Homo sapiens: one gene and its partners. The protein of the gene in region 3 interacts with the protein of the main gene of each other region in a pairwise test. Each region holds a gene or a part of one and is shown on either strand. Other genes may lie near its edges. The genes, in order: AQP9, SYT2 and TF.

The links.
Region 1: the proteins of TF (region 3) and AQP9 interact in binary tests that used the Homo sapiens proteins (3 or more experiments, as listed by UniProt).
Region 2: the proteins of TF (region 3) and SYT2 interact in binary tests that used the Homo sapiens proteins (3 or more experiments, as listed by UniProt).

The regions. Positions count from the first base shown.
Region 1 is NC_000015.10:58,141,281-58,148,403, reverse strand, and holds part of AQP9 (aquaporin-9), read right to left. Parts: intron 1-7,123. UniProt on the Homo sapiens protein: Aquaglyceroporins form homotetrameric transmembrane channels, with each monomer independently mediating glycerol and water transport across the plasma membrane along their osmotic gradient.
Region 2 is NC_000001.11:202,589,973-202,595,454, reverse strand, and holds the end of SYT2 (synaptotagmin-2), read left to right. Parts: 3' UTR 1-4,859; downstream 4,860-5,482. UniProt on the Homo sapiens protein: Exhibits calcium-dependent phospholipid and inositol polyphosphate binding properties. May have a regulatory role in the membrane interactions during trafficking of synaptic vesicles at the active zone of the synapse.
Region 3 is NC_000003.12:133,791,345-133,797,216, reverse strand, and holds the end of TF (serotransferrin isoform 1 precursor), read right to left. Parts: 3' UTR 576-5,872; downstream 1-575. UniProt on the Homo sapiens protein: Transferrins are iron binding transport proteins which can bind two Fe(3+) ions in association with the binding of an anion, usually bicarbonate.

The DNA of each region.
Region 1 (7,123 bases), on a different chromosome or scaffold from region 3:
ATGCTCCTCAAAAAAGGGGTTTGTGGTTAAGTAGAGCTGAAGACAGCTTTACATTCTGTTCCCCTCTTAGAGATTTACAGAGAACATTAAAGGCTCTGATAATTCCTGCAGTTGAGAAAACTGCTTATTTTGGTTTAACCCAGTGTTTCCCAAACATATTTGGGAAGGACCACATGTATTTTTTTCACTTAATTCTTGTTTGCATCTTTTGGAACTAGTGTTTTTCAGAACAGATTTTGAGCAACTCCCTACAAAAATGCTTTGAAAAGACATACTCTACTGGGTGAGCTCTCTCATGGGGAGGAAGGGGGTGAAGAAAATACATATGAATATGTACAAGTTTTTAAATTTCAAAAGGGTATACTATAAAATATAAGAAATGTGTTTCCTTCCAACCCCAGATTTTAAATATTATTCTCCACAGGTAACTAATATCAATACTTCCTGGTATGTTGTCAAAAAGTGTGCATGTGCCTCTGTGTGTGTGCATGTATATGTGTGTGTGTGTGTGTGCATGTGTTTATACAGGTGAGGGTATTTAACACATACCATTTCTGCCTGCTTTTTCTACTTGAATAGCTTAGAGTATTTTTGTATTAGCATGTAAACCTTCTATTTAATGGGTAAATAGGAGTCTTGCATAGATGCACCCCCATTTTTTTAACCAATCACCTGTTGATAGAAGCATAGGGTTTTCGGGAGGTACTCTCATAAGAAAGCTTGAATTTCCAGAAAGACTCTAAGGCATGTGCGCTGAGAGGGACTAAGCCTTCAAGTCGTTTATGGTCTTGACTGACTGTTCTAGGCTCACATCTTAGCATGACCAGCCAAGCTACTGAGATGGAGAAAAGGGCAAGGGGCAGGGCCGGCACACTTTGCTGGCATAGTTTCTCTTAAATCACTTGCTTTGCTTAGAAGTTTCAGTGAACTCAGCAATCCTGCCCCAGACATGAAATTAGATGCCTGCTGGAGGTATAATGGGCACCTAATTTCTTCACGGTTGAACTGCTTCAGCCATTTGAACCATCTGTGGGTTGTTAGGTCACTTTCACAGGGCTGATGAGTAAATAAGGGCCAACTTCTGCTCTCATTAGTATGTTTTCCTTTCTCGTCAAGTAATGAGAACATGTTGCAATGGGATTCGTCACTAAAGAAAAACTGACGAAACCCACTTCTGGAAAGTAGAAAAAAAAAATACTTCCCCTTTGAAAGTCAATGAAAACAGTGAGTTTTCTGGGTAAAATTAAAATTCACAATCAGAAGCAGAATCCTGTTTGGCAGAATCAAGTTTGGCTCCAGGAGTCTGCAGCCCTTAGATCAGTGATCCAGAACGGACTTTTCTCCCAAGCGCCTTGAAACTGTAAGATTTCCCAGGTGAGCCTGGTCCTCCACGTTCATTGCTGATAGGGGGAAGTCTGTAGGAAAATTCTCCCTCAGCTGCTAGTGACTCAAAGTCTAAGGATGTCAAAAGAGCTGGCCTCATTTGTAGGAAGCACGAGGTCTCTTAGTCATTTACGGTCACAGTTGGGAGAAAGGTCACAGAGTGCCGTTCTTTTGGGAGAGTGCTCTTCAACAGGCACCTGCATCCCCCAGGCTTCTCTTTTCAGTTTGCCACTCCACAGCAATCATTTCTGGCTGGCGGTATACCTGGGGAACCCAGCAGAAGCAAATGCAAACCTGCTCTGGAAGAACAAATCCACACCTTAGGCCACGTGGAATTCCCACAGGGAAAAATAAATCTCCCTGAAGAATTTATAATACAGATGTATAAAACACTAAAGGAAAAGATCCTTTATGAATAAGAGTCAGTAGATAAAATAGGCAGAATGATTCACTCCCCCGCAACTCGAGACGACAGAACAGGTTTAAAATATTATAAATATATTAGGCTTTGGTGAGTTAAGGAAATGAAAGAAATAAGCACACAAGAAAAGAAACTAAAAGAAAAAAAGAACCAAATAAAACATATAGAAATGAAAAGATAGTGAAACTAAAGACTCAATGAACGTGTTAAACAGAAGATTAGATAGAACCAAATAGGGAATTGGTGAACTGAAAGATAGATTTGAAACAGCAACTATACAAAATTCAGCATGGATTAAGAGAATAAGAGAAGAAATATGAAAAAAATGGTTGAGGCATAAAAAAATGACAGAGTCAACATGCATACCAATATAGTAGGAGTTCTAAAAGGAGAAAACAGACTGGGGGAAAGGCAAGGTAATAAAGAGGAAAATTTTCCAGAATTGGTAAATATTATAACCCTTTAAATTGAAGATGAAAAATGAGTTAAGAACTAGAAATAAATTCACCTCTAGGCACATAATAGTGAAATTTCAAAATAAAAAAACAAAGTGAAACTCTTATTAGTTACCAGATAAATTCAGATTATTAAGGACAAAAATGAGACCCAGAGACTTGTGAACAGCAATAACAGAGGCATTGGAAAAATGACAGAGACACCTGAAAAATGCCAAGCAAAAATAATTATCAACCTAAAATGTATCAGCTAATTTATCATTCAACCTTGAGCATGAAATAGACACATTCAGACAAAGACTGAGAAAGTTCATCTGTCACACACCCTTCCTGAAAAATTTTCTAAAGGAAGAACTGCAAGAATAAGGAGACAGAACCCAAGAGAAAGTAGTGGGTGTATGCAGTAATGATTAGCAAATAAACCAGTAAATGATAGGAATGCATTTTTAAATAAGCAAACAAAAATATTTATTTTAAAACACCAGTAACAACAATAATAATGAGGGAAAAATTTAAATATTAGACAACAATGACATGTAAGATAGAGTGGTTGATTGGAGTTAGAATTTTTTAAAGTTTTTGTGTTGTTCAGAAGAAAAATTGATTTACTTTAAGTTAAAAAATATATATATATATGGGTAATTTTTTTTTTTTTTTGGACACAAAGTCTCATTTTGTTGCCCAGGCTGGAGTGCTTTGGCACAATCTCCGCCTCCCAGGTTCAAGCAATTCTCCTGCCTCAGCCTCCTGAGTAGCTGGGATTACAGGTGCACACCACCATGCCTGGCTAATTTTTGTGTTTTTAGTAGAGACCAGGTTTCACCATGTTGGCCAGGCTGGTCTTGAACTCCTGACCTTAGGTGATCCACCTGCCTCGGCCTCCCAAAGTGCAGGGATTACAGGCATCAGCCATTGTGCCCAGCCTAAGGGTAAATACGTTAATAGAAAGGGCACACAGAGGAGAAAAGGCAAGAATAAAGAAAGCTGATCAACTCAATAGGAGGACATAAGGAAGATCAAAGCAGAAATTACTGAAATGGAAAACAAACTTCTTTTTAAAAATTGAAAAGAGGATGTCACCTCAGGTATAGTAGAGTTTTTTTCTTTTATCTTTTTTTTTTTTTTTTTTTTGAGATGGAGTCTCACTTCATCGCCCAGGCCAGAGTGCAGTGGCGCAATCTCAGCTCACTGCAACCTCCACCTTCCGGGTTGAAGCGATTCTCCTGCCTCAGCCTCCTGAGTAGCTGGGACTACAGGTGCATGCCATCATGCCCAGCTAATTTTTGTATTTTTAGTAAAGATGGGGTTTCACCATATTGACCAGGCTGGTCTGGAACTCCTGACCTCTTGATCCGCCCACCTCGGCCTCCCAAAGTGCTGGGATTACAGGCATGAGCCACCGCGCCTGGCCAGACCTGTAACTTTTAAAGAAATTTTTCTTGTCATCTGTCCATCCCTCTCTTTTTTCGTGCACATGCTGAGTAATCTTCAAGAAATACATAACTCCCATTTTACAAAGTGCTCCAGAAAATAGAAAAAAAGGGAAAATTTTGATTCATTTCATGAGTCTAATATAACCTTGGTAATAAAAGTAGAAAGACAACAACAACAACAAACAATGTTCTCAACAACAAAAAAAATGGTATATGAGGTAGTGCAAGTTTGGACAAACAGATCAATGGCACTGAATAGTCTAGGCATAGAACCACATATGCGTGTGAACAGGTGTATGATAGGAATGTCATCACAATCAGTGGAGAAAAGATAGACAGTCAAAACTGGCCTTGGGACAATTGTCTATCCTTGCAGACATAGATAATAGACCCCAATCCCACATCATACACCAAATAAATTCTAATTATTTAAAGACACAAATATGAAAAGCAAAATATTAAACCTCAATAAGAAAACACAAAATACCTTAATGTATGGATTTAAAATAAATATAAATATCCTATAACAATTAAGAAAAAGTAAAGTATCCCAAAGAGAAAGGTGCAGAGGCTGTAATCAGGCAATTTACAAAAGAGGCACCTAAACGTTTAGTAAATACATGAAAAGATAATCACTGCACTGGAATTGAGTACAATTACTAGTGAAATTCCATTTTTCTCTCTCTCAAATTAGCAAAATATAAAAGTTGGATGATATCAAGGATGGTTGAGTATGTGATAAATGGGAACTCATGTCGCTACTGGAAGTACAACTTTGAAATCACTTTGGAGAGCAATTTTATAATACACATAAAGTTGAGGATGCACATACCCTAGGACCACCAGGTCCTCTTCTAGGTATATACTCCAGAGAAACTCGTGAACATGTGTACAAGGAGACATGTACCAAGATGTTCAATGTAGCAGTCTTGGTGATTGTAATCAATAGTGAGAGGGCGATGGGTACATAAACCAGTCATACATGTTCCCAAATTAATAAATTTCAGAAAGTGTCTCTGGGAAAAAGTCTCAAATTGGAGAAGATGTATAAGCTATGAAGCTATATATGTAAATTTTTAAACATATAAAACTATAATATATATTCTTATAGGCAACTGTAGTAAAACTTCAAAAGCATATATTAGAATGTTAACTGTAGCGTGGTTAAGAGAAACTGGAGAGATTTGATTCTAATCTCAGCTCCACCACACACTTGCTTGTGGTCAAGTGACTTAAACATACTAAGTCCTAATTTCCTCATCTATAAAATGAGAGCAGTATCTTTACCTCATTAGATTTAGTTTAGATTTAGTTTAAGGATCAAAGTGTCTGGGGTATAGAGTATGCTTAGTGTTAACCTCCTTTGCCCTCTCTTGTCCTCGTCATCATATTTGACAGAAGACAGCCTCGAGTCTTTAAACTCTTGCTTCAAGGCAAGGATCTAAGGAGAATCCCCAGTGTTTAGCACTTCTGCATGTTCAGATTTAGAACCTCAGACGTTCTTAAAGGGACAGAACTCCCAAGTACAGAAGTACCAATCCTTGAAGGACTGAGCATTGAACATAAATCATAATAACAAGAGGCAGGTAAAACTGACGGTAGACATCCTCTGATGTTCTGCTGTGGTGGAAAGAGCTTTTGATAAAATGCTGCAAGACTGTGGGTGTCTGTTCTCTCAATTGAATGATGCAAGAGTCAGGCAACAGAGACCATCTTATTCCAAAGTTTCTGAGCGAGGGCCTGAGGATGGTGCACGACTTGGACAGACAAACCACCCACAGGCAGAATCCAGGGCACTGCTGACAGTAGGGGCTTCTGATCTAGCATCTGTTGGCCAACTGACAGCTCTAGCTCCATGTGACCCTCAGTCCTGGGCACCCTAGACTTGGAGAGATGGATGGTTTTGTAAAATAGCAAGCTAGAAGAACCAAGCATGGAGGAAACAGAGAAAGAATAGGTGGCTGTTGAGCCAGAAAGCAAGACAGAGAAGTTATGGGGTCTCTTGAGGCCCACTTTCCTATAGGTCCTTTGCTCTGAACCAAAAGAGTGGTCTTGAGGAAAAGCTAGAAAACAGAAATACTAGAGGAAAAACACAGTGCAATGCTTGGTCAATGTGTTTATCAGAGCTGAAGACATCACTGAGCCACCTCAGAACCCTGGTGTTACCTGAGGTTTGAATGTGTTTGTAGGTGGTGAAGAGATCCCAAGACTCTGCTAGCAGATCTCCTGTAAAATATCCCCACCACGATCACGTCTGTTCTGTAAAATCATCTTTTGACACTGCTAATGTATTTTAAACTGTAAACTTTGTCAAGTTCGCTTGGGCTTTCACATGAAAGGAGTTAATTCTCATCAAATGATGGTATTAGGGAATGACTGGAGTCAAGATACCAAGCCCAGCTCTTTCATTCAAGGGCTGATAAGTCTCTTAATTGTGTTACACTTGTCTCTCCATCTGGCAAAATGCAGTTGATCGCTCTCCTTTCTCTCTCTTCAGGAAACATTCAAACAGGAACGAGAATTTGGACAAGCGAACACTCTGTGCTGCTCAAGGGAAGAGCACAGTGGAAGTCCAAGGGCGAGTGTGTGCCCAGGGCAGGGCAACTGGGCTCTGGGCTGATTCCCGGGATGCATGATTACATCAGCCTGAGCTCAGCTTCTCCACCAATAAAAAGGGCCAGTGATATCTGCCCACCCTTATCTCAGAGCTCTCCTGCCAGTACCTGGGCATTCCAAATAATGTACTAGACCAAAATTGTCCTGGATTCTGCCCTGCAAAGTGGACGTTTCCTTTAATTTGGCTTATAAACTTTCTGATTTCACTCTAAATCCTGACCATAGATTCTTTTGTCTCAAAAGCTCCCTAAGATAGAATAGACCTACTTCAAGATCTGAACAAACTTTGTAATAATAATTTTAAAGCCCTAGAGTGTCTATAACCAGCATGTCTGATTGAGAATCCTCTCAAAATGGAGAGACAAACTCTGTGACCCCAGCAAGGAGGGATGATTTCTCACCCAGTCCTGGTGGAAGGTAGGAGCAGGAAGAAGGGAACACTGCAGTGTCTGAAATTTCTCACATACAATCAACCATCCCTGTCCTTCCTTCCTCCTTCCTGTACTGCCCACTCCCCTATTTCCTCCATAGTCTGTGTTCCAGGATAGTTTCTTTCTATTTCCTTCAGGGCACTGAAGGTAAAGATCAAGGGTACTACTTTTAGCAGAAGTACTTGCATTTTTTTCCATTCTAAGAGATGCCAAAAGTTAGACCTCTAATGCGGAAGCTTGACAGGGTGAGAAAAGAATTCAGCATCTGTCCGACTACACAGTATGTTATCTACTCAAAAGTCCAGCCCTGGAAAGCTGTCCTTCCACCTCAGGAGGAAATACAGCTGCTTGCTGGGTTGTTCACTTCAGCATCTTCAATAAGAT
Region 2 (5,482 bases), on a different chromosome or scaffold from region 3:
ATGCTGGAGAGCTGATAGGTAGCTGGAGTGGCCCAGGGAGACCTATGGGAAGGACCCGTCCTACCATTAGGGGGCTTCTCTCTATGAATGCTAAGAAACAAAGGGCATCCATTCCAAATGAGTAGCAGAGGTGACCTTCTAGGGTTTCTACCCATGCTCAGTTGTATCCCATTCCCTGTTCACCTTTTGTCCCCAGCACTGATATAAAAGCCATATATATGTTAGTCAGGTTTGCACTGAGTCTTCTTCCAATCCTTCAGCCTGGACAACAGAGTGAGGTCCCCTTGTGGCCAGAGGCCAGCCCTCCTTGCCTGCCTTCCTTTGACCTCTCTTTTCCATCCATGAAGCCCTCAGGCCCTTGCCATTTTTTCACCACAGAAAACTCATGGCTTCTCCAGAAGCCTGAGTATCTCTCTTTCCCAGCACAAATGGCAGCATCTCTATCCTGCCCCATCTGGGCCACTTCAGCTTCCTGTAGACACCCAAGACAGATGGACAGTGTTGGAGGGAATCAGGCTTTGAGGATCCAGTGTGAAGAAGTTGCAGAGTGTCTTTTTATTTTATTTTAAAAAGGGGGAAGGGGCTTTTGGTTTTGCTTTGTTTTTTGGATGAAGGAGTGAGGGAAATGAGGGAATACCCCCACCAGAAACAGACTGGAAAGCCTGCCTGTCTCTTGGAGATCCTTCTTTGTCTTGTTAGTGGTACATGGGAAGTTATGTTTTTACTGGTGTGTGTGTGTGTGTGTGTGTGTGTACTTAATGATGGGAAGGTAAGACTCTGATCAGGATTATGAACTGCGGTCCTTGGGACCAAAGGTGTGGTCATGGTAGAGAGTTGTAGGACAATAGGGTGTTTTCAGAATCTGGGTGGCCACAGAGTGGGATTTCCTGGTATGGACATCAGAAGTCACTGGACTCTTCTCCCAACCCCAGAGTTATGGGATTTTGGTGCTTTCTCAGGGTCTCTCCCCAGACTCACTCTTCTCACCCATATCCCACAGACTCACTCATGGAGACCCCCTTGTCAATATCCCCTCTACCTTTACTCCTTTGCCCTTTCCCAATTCATCTTCTACCACCTGGATTCTTTTCCATTCATGAACTTCATTCAGCCCTTCCAAAGCCCAAGATTTGCATTCCCTTGACAGGGAGGAAAGGCAATGGTAGGAACCTCTGGTGGTCTGGGTGTCTATGTGCCTGGTGACCAGGGCTGGATTTTTATTACTCTGAGCCCACTGCTAGTGAGGAGCCTTGAGGGGTGGGGACAGGTTGCTGAGTGATTTTGAACGTTGACACCAGTGTGGAGCCAGTGTGGGTGTGGGGAGCAGTGCCTTCCTCAGGTCCCAGCTGGTCCTGATATGCCACGTAGTGGATGGCATCTGTCTTGGTCCATGGGCTTGGTGGGAACATGCTTCTGCTTGTGTGTTTTCCATACCTGAGGGCTGACGTAGCTTAAACCACAGGGCATCATGCCAAACACTCACTGCTGGGCAGGTTTATTTCTGGGGATGTCAGGGTACTGGGGTGTAGGCACTAAGCAGGATAGAGTTAGGGTGTCTGGCTAGTAAGGGGTTCTGGACGCCTCTGGGGCTGTGAGTTTTCATCTCAAAGTCTGTTCCAGAGAAAGGAAAGTAGTATAGAGGTGATTTTTAGAGAAGCTGAGACCATGAAAACAAGCCTAATCCCATCCAGAAACTGGGGTAAAGTCTGAAAGTTCGTTTTCTTCTTCCTCCCTGAATAATTGTTCCAGAAGGGATGCTAACTCTGCCAGAGCTACAGGCAGATTTTTGGGCTTTGGAAGTGGAAGCTGAGGCCTGGGGAAGGCTGGGTAAGGAATGCTGGGGCAATCTCAGACAGTAGGCAGGTGCTTGGCATGAATGAGAAGTGACTTTCCTGGAGTCCCTCAGTAGAGGATGAGATAGCAGGGATTAGGCCACAGTCTCAGATCCTGATCTTTTTTCTTCCTAGGAAAGCATACATAACTTGTGTCTGCAGAATCAGTGTGGGATGATTTTGCTGGCCCAAGGCTTCAGCGAGAGGGAGAAGAGAGGTCACTACAGCCCTCCTGTGGGTAAAAGCAGCTCTCTTATAAACCTGCCTCCATGCAGTGGGGTGGGGGTAAGGGTGGGTGACAGCAAAGAGGTTGAGGAACCTCCCTGGGTTTGGGGAGTGAGAGCTTCCATGTTCCCTTAATGTCCTAGGTTAATTCATAAGGCATCTGAGTCCTGGGTCTCACCCAGCCTCACAGAGAGAAAAACTGTCCCTGAGGGTGTCCCCTCCCACTCAAAGGTAGAAAGAGATTGAGCCAGGAACTGCCCTCATATCCTCTGCTCTGCCCCTTCCCTTCCCTTTCCTCTGCCCCTCCCACCTAAAGCTGTTTGGGGCCCTTTCTCAGAGCCCTGGGTGGTGGCAGGCAGGGAGGAGTCCCAAGATCCTGGTGGCCCTGAGCCCCATGCTATGGTTGCCAGATTTGGCAAATAAAAATACAGGATGTCCAGTTACATTTGAATTTCAGTTCAACAACAAACAATTATTAAGTGTAAATATGTCCTAGGCAAATAGTTGGGACATATACTAAAAAATAATTTGTTGTTTATCTGAAATTCAAATGTAACTGGTCATCCTGCATTGTGTCTGGGAACCCTACCCTATGACTTTTCCCCCTCTCCCTTTGGTCCCAAGGGGCCAGGAACCCCAAGGATTTGACTTAACCAGTTTTTTGAACTGCAATATTGAGAAGGGGACACTGTGACTTGAAGACACATGAATTACTTTATTTTTTAAGCAACAACAAAATAAGAACCTTCTGAAGCCATTTGAGCCTCATCTGCCCCCATCCGTGTATATTTAATTATATATAAAAGAAGATAATTACCTAGAAACATATGAACAGAATCTTGTTTAATCAAGATGCATGTCTATAACTTTCTGTAAATAGCCGCATGGCAATGCTGAGAGTCCCCTTGATCCCCAACCTCAAACCCATTTTACAGAACTGGTTGAGGCTGCTCCTTTGATTTTATGTCGTGTAAAGTCTTTGTTCCCCAGCCCCACCCCTGCCTCCTCCCATCGGGAAACCCCCCATGGGAGTCATCAGTGGGCGGGAGTCGGTGCCTGCTCCAGTCCAGCCCTGCCTTGGGAGATGCTGGAGGACCCTGTCGCCCTGAAGGCCTGTTTGCTGCACATCTGCCTGCAGAGCCAAACCTCAGGGCCCGGTGCAGTGTCCAGCCTGGTATCTGGCATCCCAGTAGCTTCCATGTTCTGTGTATGTGTGTGGTGTGCCCCTTCCTCCCACTGTTTGAATTCACTGAAAAGCCATAAAGGGGGCCTCCTGCTGGAGATTTGGCCTCCCTTGGCTCCTCCCAGGAGCCCCCATGTCTCTCCAACTGGCTCCCCACAGACCACTTCTGAAGGGCTCACCTGTTGTCACTCCCTCCTGCTCCCTCAGTCCCGTGTCATGAGAATGGACGGTGTCCAGGGCTTCCGGTGGGGTCTCAGGAGATGCCCATGCTGGCCCTGCCCGAGCTGGCTTTCTCGGCCTGGGTTCACAGTTCAGCTCCATCTCTACGCTGGGCGAGGAGCAGACAGCAGTGGGACTCCATGGTTCTGGATACCTTTCCTGGGGTCCCTGTGGAGGCAACCAGGATTTTCAGGAGCAGCCAGTCAGCAGCTCAGCCAGGGATGACAGAACCATCCCTGCTTACTCACCTCTGTAGTGTGAGGGTCTGTGGGTGGTGATGGAGGAGGGACTCAGGGAGAGGCCGGTGAATACAGGGGCTGACGCTCTTCCCTCGTGCATCCTCCTGCAGTCTGACAGAAAGCAGCCCAATAGCGGGGCAACCTCAGGGCTACCAGCGATCCCCTGAGAGTGGGGTGGGCAGGTTCAGCTGTGAGAGAGGCTCAGGCAGAGCAGGTGTGGACTAAGTCCCCTGACCTTCACACCTGCTCCCCAGAGAAGCCCCAGCCAGTTGCACCAAGTAGCAGAGGTGAGTAGAGGGGCCTGGGGGCTTCCAAGGCCCCAGGTCATCCTGTTGAACTGAGAGGGACAGGTAGCCCCCCTGCCTGCGGCCCCTGGCCCCATGGGCACCTGAGGGCAGTACTGCATGGGAAGAGCCCAGGATGCCTCAGGCCTGGCAACTGTGACAAGTATGAGGAAGGAGAGAGAACGGGAAGGGAATCAGGCAGGGCGCATTCGAGGAGGCCAGAGGTGGCGAGGCAGGCTTGCCCTGCACAAACCACAACAGAAGTTGCACACAGAAGTCCCAGGGACCTTTGTGCTGGGAACTGAAAGAGTGGGGAAGGTGGAGGGGACCATTTCAGAGCAGGCTGGAATCAGGTGCTTGGACCAGTGAAGACATGTCTTGCTTCCTCCAGCTCTCTCTGGGGCCCTCCCACTCTCCACACCCACAGCAGAGACAAATTGAGGCAAGAGTTGAGAGAGCATCTGTCTGGTGAGGTGATGGGAGCAGTGTGCATGGGGCACCAGGAGTTCCTCCATCCCACCTGCCTTAGCGATCAGGACTTTAGGGGGGCCTCTTCAAAGATAGTGACCCTTCTGCCCTGACTCCTGCCCATCTAAGGACTTGATTTGCTGCTTTCTGAAAACCCTGGGGCTGAAAACTTCAAAATCAGGGCCTGGCAGAGCCTAGCTTCGCCAAGGTCAGCCCACCAGGAGCCCTGCCTTCGTCTCCATAGGAAGGACACATGTACAGCCCTTGCCCCCGGCCCTCTCATTCCCACTTCTGCTTGGCAATGCTCTCCATCTCCCTTATGTGGACTCTTGTTCTTGTCTGATCTCTTGTCAAATTGTTATTTTGTAATGAACTGCGTCTCCTTATTAAAGAAATGAGCTGAAAGAAACCTGGGGGTGGGGGGTGTCTCTGGTTGTTTTTGCTGCGCTGAGGTGGGGGTGAGGGAGTGGGAGCTGCCTGTGAGGGTCAGTATGGTGGGTGAGGGTGGTGAGATGGTCCTGAGGCTCTGGCTTCTAACCCAGAATCTCCCTTCAGGGAAGCACCAAAAGGGGCTGAGGTCCCCTCTCTCCTGGGGTTGGGGGAAGACCAGATTGGCACTCTGGTGGGTGCTGGGGCCCACACATCTCCTGAGAACACATGCCAGGCTGTGGAACTGTGGGGAGTGTGGTGGTGCCGGGGAACATTGTCTGGGAGGCTGGGCGGGGCGGGGTGGTGGTGGGGACTATATTCTTGAATTCCCTTCCAGTAGAGCTGGGCTTAGGGAACAGCCACAGTCTGAGCCCAATGACGAGAGGGAGGCTGGCCCTGGGAAGTGGGAATTTGAAAAGTAACAATTTCTACAAAGTCCTCAGTTGACTCTTTGCAAATAACTTGAAATGTCTTTAACTTCTGAAGCAAAGATGTTAGGGACCAGGGATAGGGCGTCAGAATTTTTAGGGAAAGGGAGAGTGGGACAGCATTGCCCCCAAAGACCAGGGAAGAGTAAAACTCCTTCTTCGGTTCCCACTTCCA
Region 3 (5,872 bases):
GTATTAGTTTACTAACTCTAGTTTTGTTATATGCTGGCAATCTCTTTAACATCTAGAAAGACTAGATGTTATAAATTAGGACACCATCCAATGTTATGCAATTGGGATCATACAGTATGTATCATGCTTTTTCACACATCATGAATATTTACCAATTCAAAATTCCAAAGCTATGTAAATGTTTGTTTGTATACACAGCAAAGTAAAAGGAAATGCAGATATAAGGGACAACAGTCAATTGTGTCATACTGTAAACACACTGATATAAAGCCCTTTGCACTTTCTTCTGCTCCTTCCTCCCTGAATCAGCATAAATATAATGTGAAGTGGTTTGATCAATTTCCAAAAGACAATGTTTCATATGAATCAAAAGGATATCTACAAAATGTGTTATTTACTACCTCTACTTTTAACATACTGTGTGCACTTCTAAACATCTAGAAGACTAGATGTTTCAAATAAGGACTTAATTTTGTCCACTATATGTCCAGTAGTGTTACTACTGGAGGGTGTCCAGGTTCTTGGCTTCTTGAACAAATAATTGGACAAAATGCACAAACAAAGCAAGGAAAGAATGAAGCAACAAAAGCAGAGGTTTATTGAAAACAAAAGTACACTCCACAGGGTGGCAGAGGGCTTGAGCATAGGGGCTCAATAGCCCGGTTACAGAATTTTCTGGGGTTTAAATACCCTCTAGAGGTTTCCATTGGTTACTCAGTGTATGCCCTATGTAAATACAGAAGACATTTCCCATCATAGCTGAAGTGTTTCCATTTGATTTAGTTCTAGGAAGTGAGCATGCATCTGCCTTATATTCCTTGCCTACAGACCCTATTCTTCTGCCTCATTTCCCTCCAGAGATGGGATCCCCATAAATCTTTATGGGAGGTGGAGGGGCCGATGGTCTTTCTTTTGTAACTGCTTCATGTTGGCTTGAGGCCTAGTCCCTACCTATTGAGGATCACAGAAGTCCTGCTCTGCTCTTTCTAGTGAAGGCAGGGTAGCTCCTTGATGGCCAGGGGTGGTGGAACTGGATGAAACTTTTGTTGCATGATCATCTGAAGCTTGATGGTCTTTTGGCGAGAGGAAATTAATTTGGTTAAAAGATTTAATGGGAACTCAGGGGGTGGATATCTATGCTGTCAGGAATGTTTGTTATAGAGATTTGTAGGAGAAAAACAAAACCTGGCCTGTGGTCTGTTCTAGGATCTATGTGTTTCCTTAAGGTCTTGGCATACGTGACTCCGTTTTGGTTTAGTTTGGTCTGTTGGGGCCTGGCGCATGGGCTCAGTACAAAAAAATGACCTCCCATAATTTTGTTTAAAAAAAATTCCCCTTTTTGGCCAGGTGCAGTGGCTCACGCCTGTTATCCCAGCACTTTGGGAGGCCGAGGTGGGCAGATCATGAGGTTAGGAGATCGAGACCATCCTGGCTAACATGGTGAAACCCCGTCTCCACTAAAAATACAAAAAAATTAGCCGGGCGTGGTGGCAGGTGCCTGTAGTCCCAGCTACTCGGGAGGCTGAGACAGAAAAATGGCGTGAACCCGGGAAGTGGAGCTTGCAGTGAGCCGAGATCGTGCCACTGCACTCCAGCCCGGGTGACAGAGTGAGACTCCATCTCAAAAAAAAAAAAAAAAAAAAAAATTCCACTTTTTTGGTCAGGTTCTCACTTAAGTGAGAGTGTGACCAAAACTTAGGGCCTTACTTAGCACCACTCTCAGTTACCAACACTTTGGGCTTTTGGACTCAGCACATCATTCGTAGGTTACAGTGTCCTCATGGCTGCAATTTCTTTCAGCTCTTGTCATTCCAGTTGAAGAGAGGCCATTTGACATTCTAGAGGTGGCAGCATGCAAACATTTAAAACCGTTGAGAGAATACAGCACACCAGGGAGACTATTATTATGACTATCAGGAGGATAATACCAAGAGTTGAGAGTAAGTATGCTCCTTATCCAGGGTCACCATAAACCAAACCTCCTAAACTCAAATAGATTAAACAATGAGCTAAAGAGTCTACTCACTTAACTAAGCAGTCTCTTCATTAATTTGCTACAACTGAATCTCTATAATACCTGATGTTTTCTCCATAGGCCATGAGTGCCAGCAGCTGCACAGATACTCTTCTGTTTAGCCAACTCTATTATTTAGCATAACTTTCTTAAGATAATTTAGTCTATTATGTAACCATAGCCTTTACAGTAAACTGCTATGGAGCCTATTATGAGGGATACATTTGCCTCTTTTATTCCAAATCATGGAAAAAGGACCTAAAGCTGGCTGCAAAATTCTTCACAAATAAAAGTATAACCCATAATTGTACACAACAGATCCTTTTTCCACTTCTATTCTTCATAGAGGCAAAAGCAAGGAAAAAATATTCAAAGATAAGAGTCTCATGATAATAGAGAAGTCTTGATTCATGATCTTGGGAAAAGCTGTTCACATCAAGGATGCCATCTTCTTCGGGAGAGAAACTTCCCTGGTTAGCTTTACCTTAAGGGTTCCAATGGGTGTACAGTTCCAAGAGTGTGGAGGGACTCTTCTCAGTTGTGAGATCATGAACCCAAAGTTCAAAGTCCAGAAGTTTTGCTGTAGTGTGGATGGCAAGGACAGTCTTTATCCAATGTTTTCAGAAGATACAATCTTCAGTTTCTAGGTTGTGAAGGAGTTGATTGTCCTCAGTGAACCATAAAAAGCTTTCTTTACCTTGTGAAAATACTTGGTGGCATAATAACTTAGTGTTATAACATCAGCCCTCTTGCATGGGAAAGCTTTTATACAACCAGAAAACATGCACTGAAAATAACAATTGAATAAAATCCCTCTATAAAATGTTTAAATGGCCTATCAGGTGACTGGATGTACCTGAAGCTTTGATTGTTTTCCCAGGAATATGGGACCAAACATTGGTTATAAACTATTTTAGCAATTTATAAGTCACCACATCAATATATTCAATTTGGATCATTTTATCTTTTCCGTGACGAGTCATGTAATGCAGAAATTTTACTAACAAAAGCTTTAACGACTTAGGAAGGACAAGGTGGCCATCCTGGTTCTCCATGAGTTCATGCTTAATTAACATTAGACTCATATCCTCTTGAATACCAGTTGTTTCCCCAAATTAGGTGCATAACACTGATAACTGATGGGTTATCATAGGTAATTTGATTTAAATGATGGAGTTTATTCAAATTTTATATCTAAACAGTTTCAGTATCAGCTGATTTAGCATGAAAATCTGGCAAAGTATTTTCTTGGTATTTAATTAATTTTTGTTCTACTTGGGTTAGCAGTTTTAGAACTCAGTCAGTCTTTTCATTAAAGTTCCAGGAATTCTTACCCAGTTCAAATGATATAATTCTAAACTTATTAGAAACCTGTATTCAAGAGTGCTTTTTAGGGTCCTTTCCAATCTTTCATGAATCTCCTAAAAGACACCATATTCTAGGACTTTGCATGCTTGTGAAGTTTTCAGAAACTGCATCAGCATTAAGCAATTAACTGTGGAAATGACTTTAAATAGTTATAGTTAAAAACACAATTGACAAGGAAATTTGGTTATTTCTGTGGTCTACAATAACATAATAATCATAATTATGATTGATAGCATATACTCAGACATATTGGAATTTTAGAAATCTCATACAATTTTGGAACATATATTAATATTATTCACTAAAATATAACCTGAAGAAGATTAAATTTTTTTCTTTTTGACAATGCTTCCCATGTAATTAAACATGTCAAATAATTCTGTTTACCTCTCTTTTGGATGCTTCAGGGGCCCTCTGCAGCATCTCAAAGTTAGAGGTTAGAAAAGACAATTTTGAAGCTGAAATTTGATTTTGGGAAGCCTATTAAATATGTTAAAGATTTAAAACACTTGACATTATGAAATGGAATTCCAGGTTACCATAGTCATTCATTTAGCAAAATGATGACTCAAAAATGTTTTAAAAGGCAAAAACCTTTCCATGTTGATAGATGGAAGACTTACTTTACAAACAATCTGTCTCTTGTCTTTCCCTTCCTTTTTTTTGGTGGGGGGGTAGTTTATTCAAAAGGCAAACAAAGATCTTTCATTATCTTTTAATACTGCATGAAAATCTTGTTCAAGAGAGAAAGCCAAATTTCACCCTTGCATTAGTGTGCTATTAATGTCAACCCCAATTTTTAAGAAAACCTTGTAGACATATCTTTCCAATCTTAATCCGTTTGACCATAAGGTGAGATTCTCATAAACCTTTTATAATCCTTTACAAATGTTTGTTAAAGAGCAGATCGGTGCTTTAAGAAAACCCTGTTTGTGCTTTTATTTTGATGTTCAATTTATGGAAAAACCAGAAAATACCCCTTTAAATTTAGTCAATATGTTCACACACATAATTTTTTACAATATTAATTTTTATAAATCTTCCACAACTCATTCAAACTTTTAGCTTTATCCTAACTTAAAACAATCCTTTAACCCTTTAGACAGAAAAAAAAATCTACATTCCCATGCCTTGTTATAATCTTTCACTGAAAATGCATTCACTTTTCTTACGTAACTTGCATGTAAAACTGTTGCTTCAGTAGTCTCACTTACATGTTACAATGTTAACTCTTAGCGAGTTTTACTTTTGGTGAAAACTTTGGTAAGTTAAGGATTTTAATTATATATTAGTTGTGGAGTCTAGGACCCAGAGAGAAGTACACTTAAGGTCTGACTCCAGCATCTGACTCCACGTGTCTCAGGCCTTACCGAGCTGTAAAGCAGGCAAGTTGTAGAGTTAAGAGTCATAGTGGCATTTTATGAAGCATTTAGGAGGTCTAATCACCGTTAAATTGTATATTTCTTGCATAAATTCTCTTTTGTAAATTATTTCATGACTTACACAGACCATCTACGACATGCTTTGACTTTCTAACTTGTCCTAAACATCCCTCTTTTTTAACAACCGCTTATTTTACTTTAGGACACGAATTTACGATATAAGATCCTTTCTTATATAAAATCTCCTTTCTTTATAACCTTCTTTGCATAGCTAGGGGACATGGCTAATTCTATTTGTCCCCAGGCCTTATCTAGAATCTAATGCTCCAAAATAAATTGAGCAATTTTTAAAAGTCAAAGAAGCGGTTTATGACCTTAAAGCATTTTGCAAATCTAATATCTGACCTGCATAATTTAGACTAAATATTTACATTTTGAAGATATTTTTATTTTACCAATAATCTTTAAAACTGTCTTTATTTCCCAAAGATTACTTAAGTTACATGAAGTAAATAGAAGGCATTACATTTTTTACTTTTCTGATAAAATATTTGATTTAAGCTCTTATTATTATTAAGCTAATTAATTAATGCTCTTTTATAGTACACACACAACACATATAAATACACAGACAGAAGATAAAGGACTCATTCCCTAAGCCAGGAATTGAACCCTAAACCCAGGCTGCCACTGTGAAAAGAGAAAGCATGGCCACATGGTTACAAGGTCAAGCTCCCAAAGACATGACTGACCAGTCTGCTGGTGTGTCTTGAACAGCAGGTCTATGGGGTCCTAAGCACACATTTTATTCTAAGGTACCCCTCTTTATGACAAAACAATACAGAAAGACACAAAGCACACCAGATTCACTACAGCTTAAGATCGGCCTCAGAATTCTTTTTTTATATTAATCAAAACTTTACAGAGGAGATAAACAGTGACTTTTACTATTCATTTATGCAGTTTGCACAGAGAGACAGAGACCAGAGTCTGGCTGGTAAGAAATTCTTACCCTTTTGCCAGTATGCCAGGTTTCTGGGTTCTGTCTCCCAAAGCAGCCCTAGGAACCCTGCTTGACTATATGCAAACAAACACATTGCCATGAATT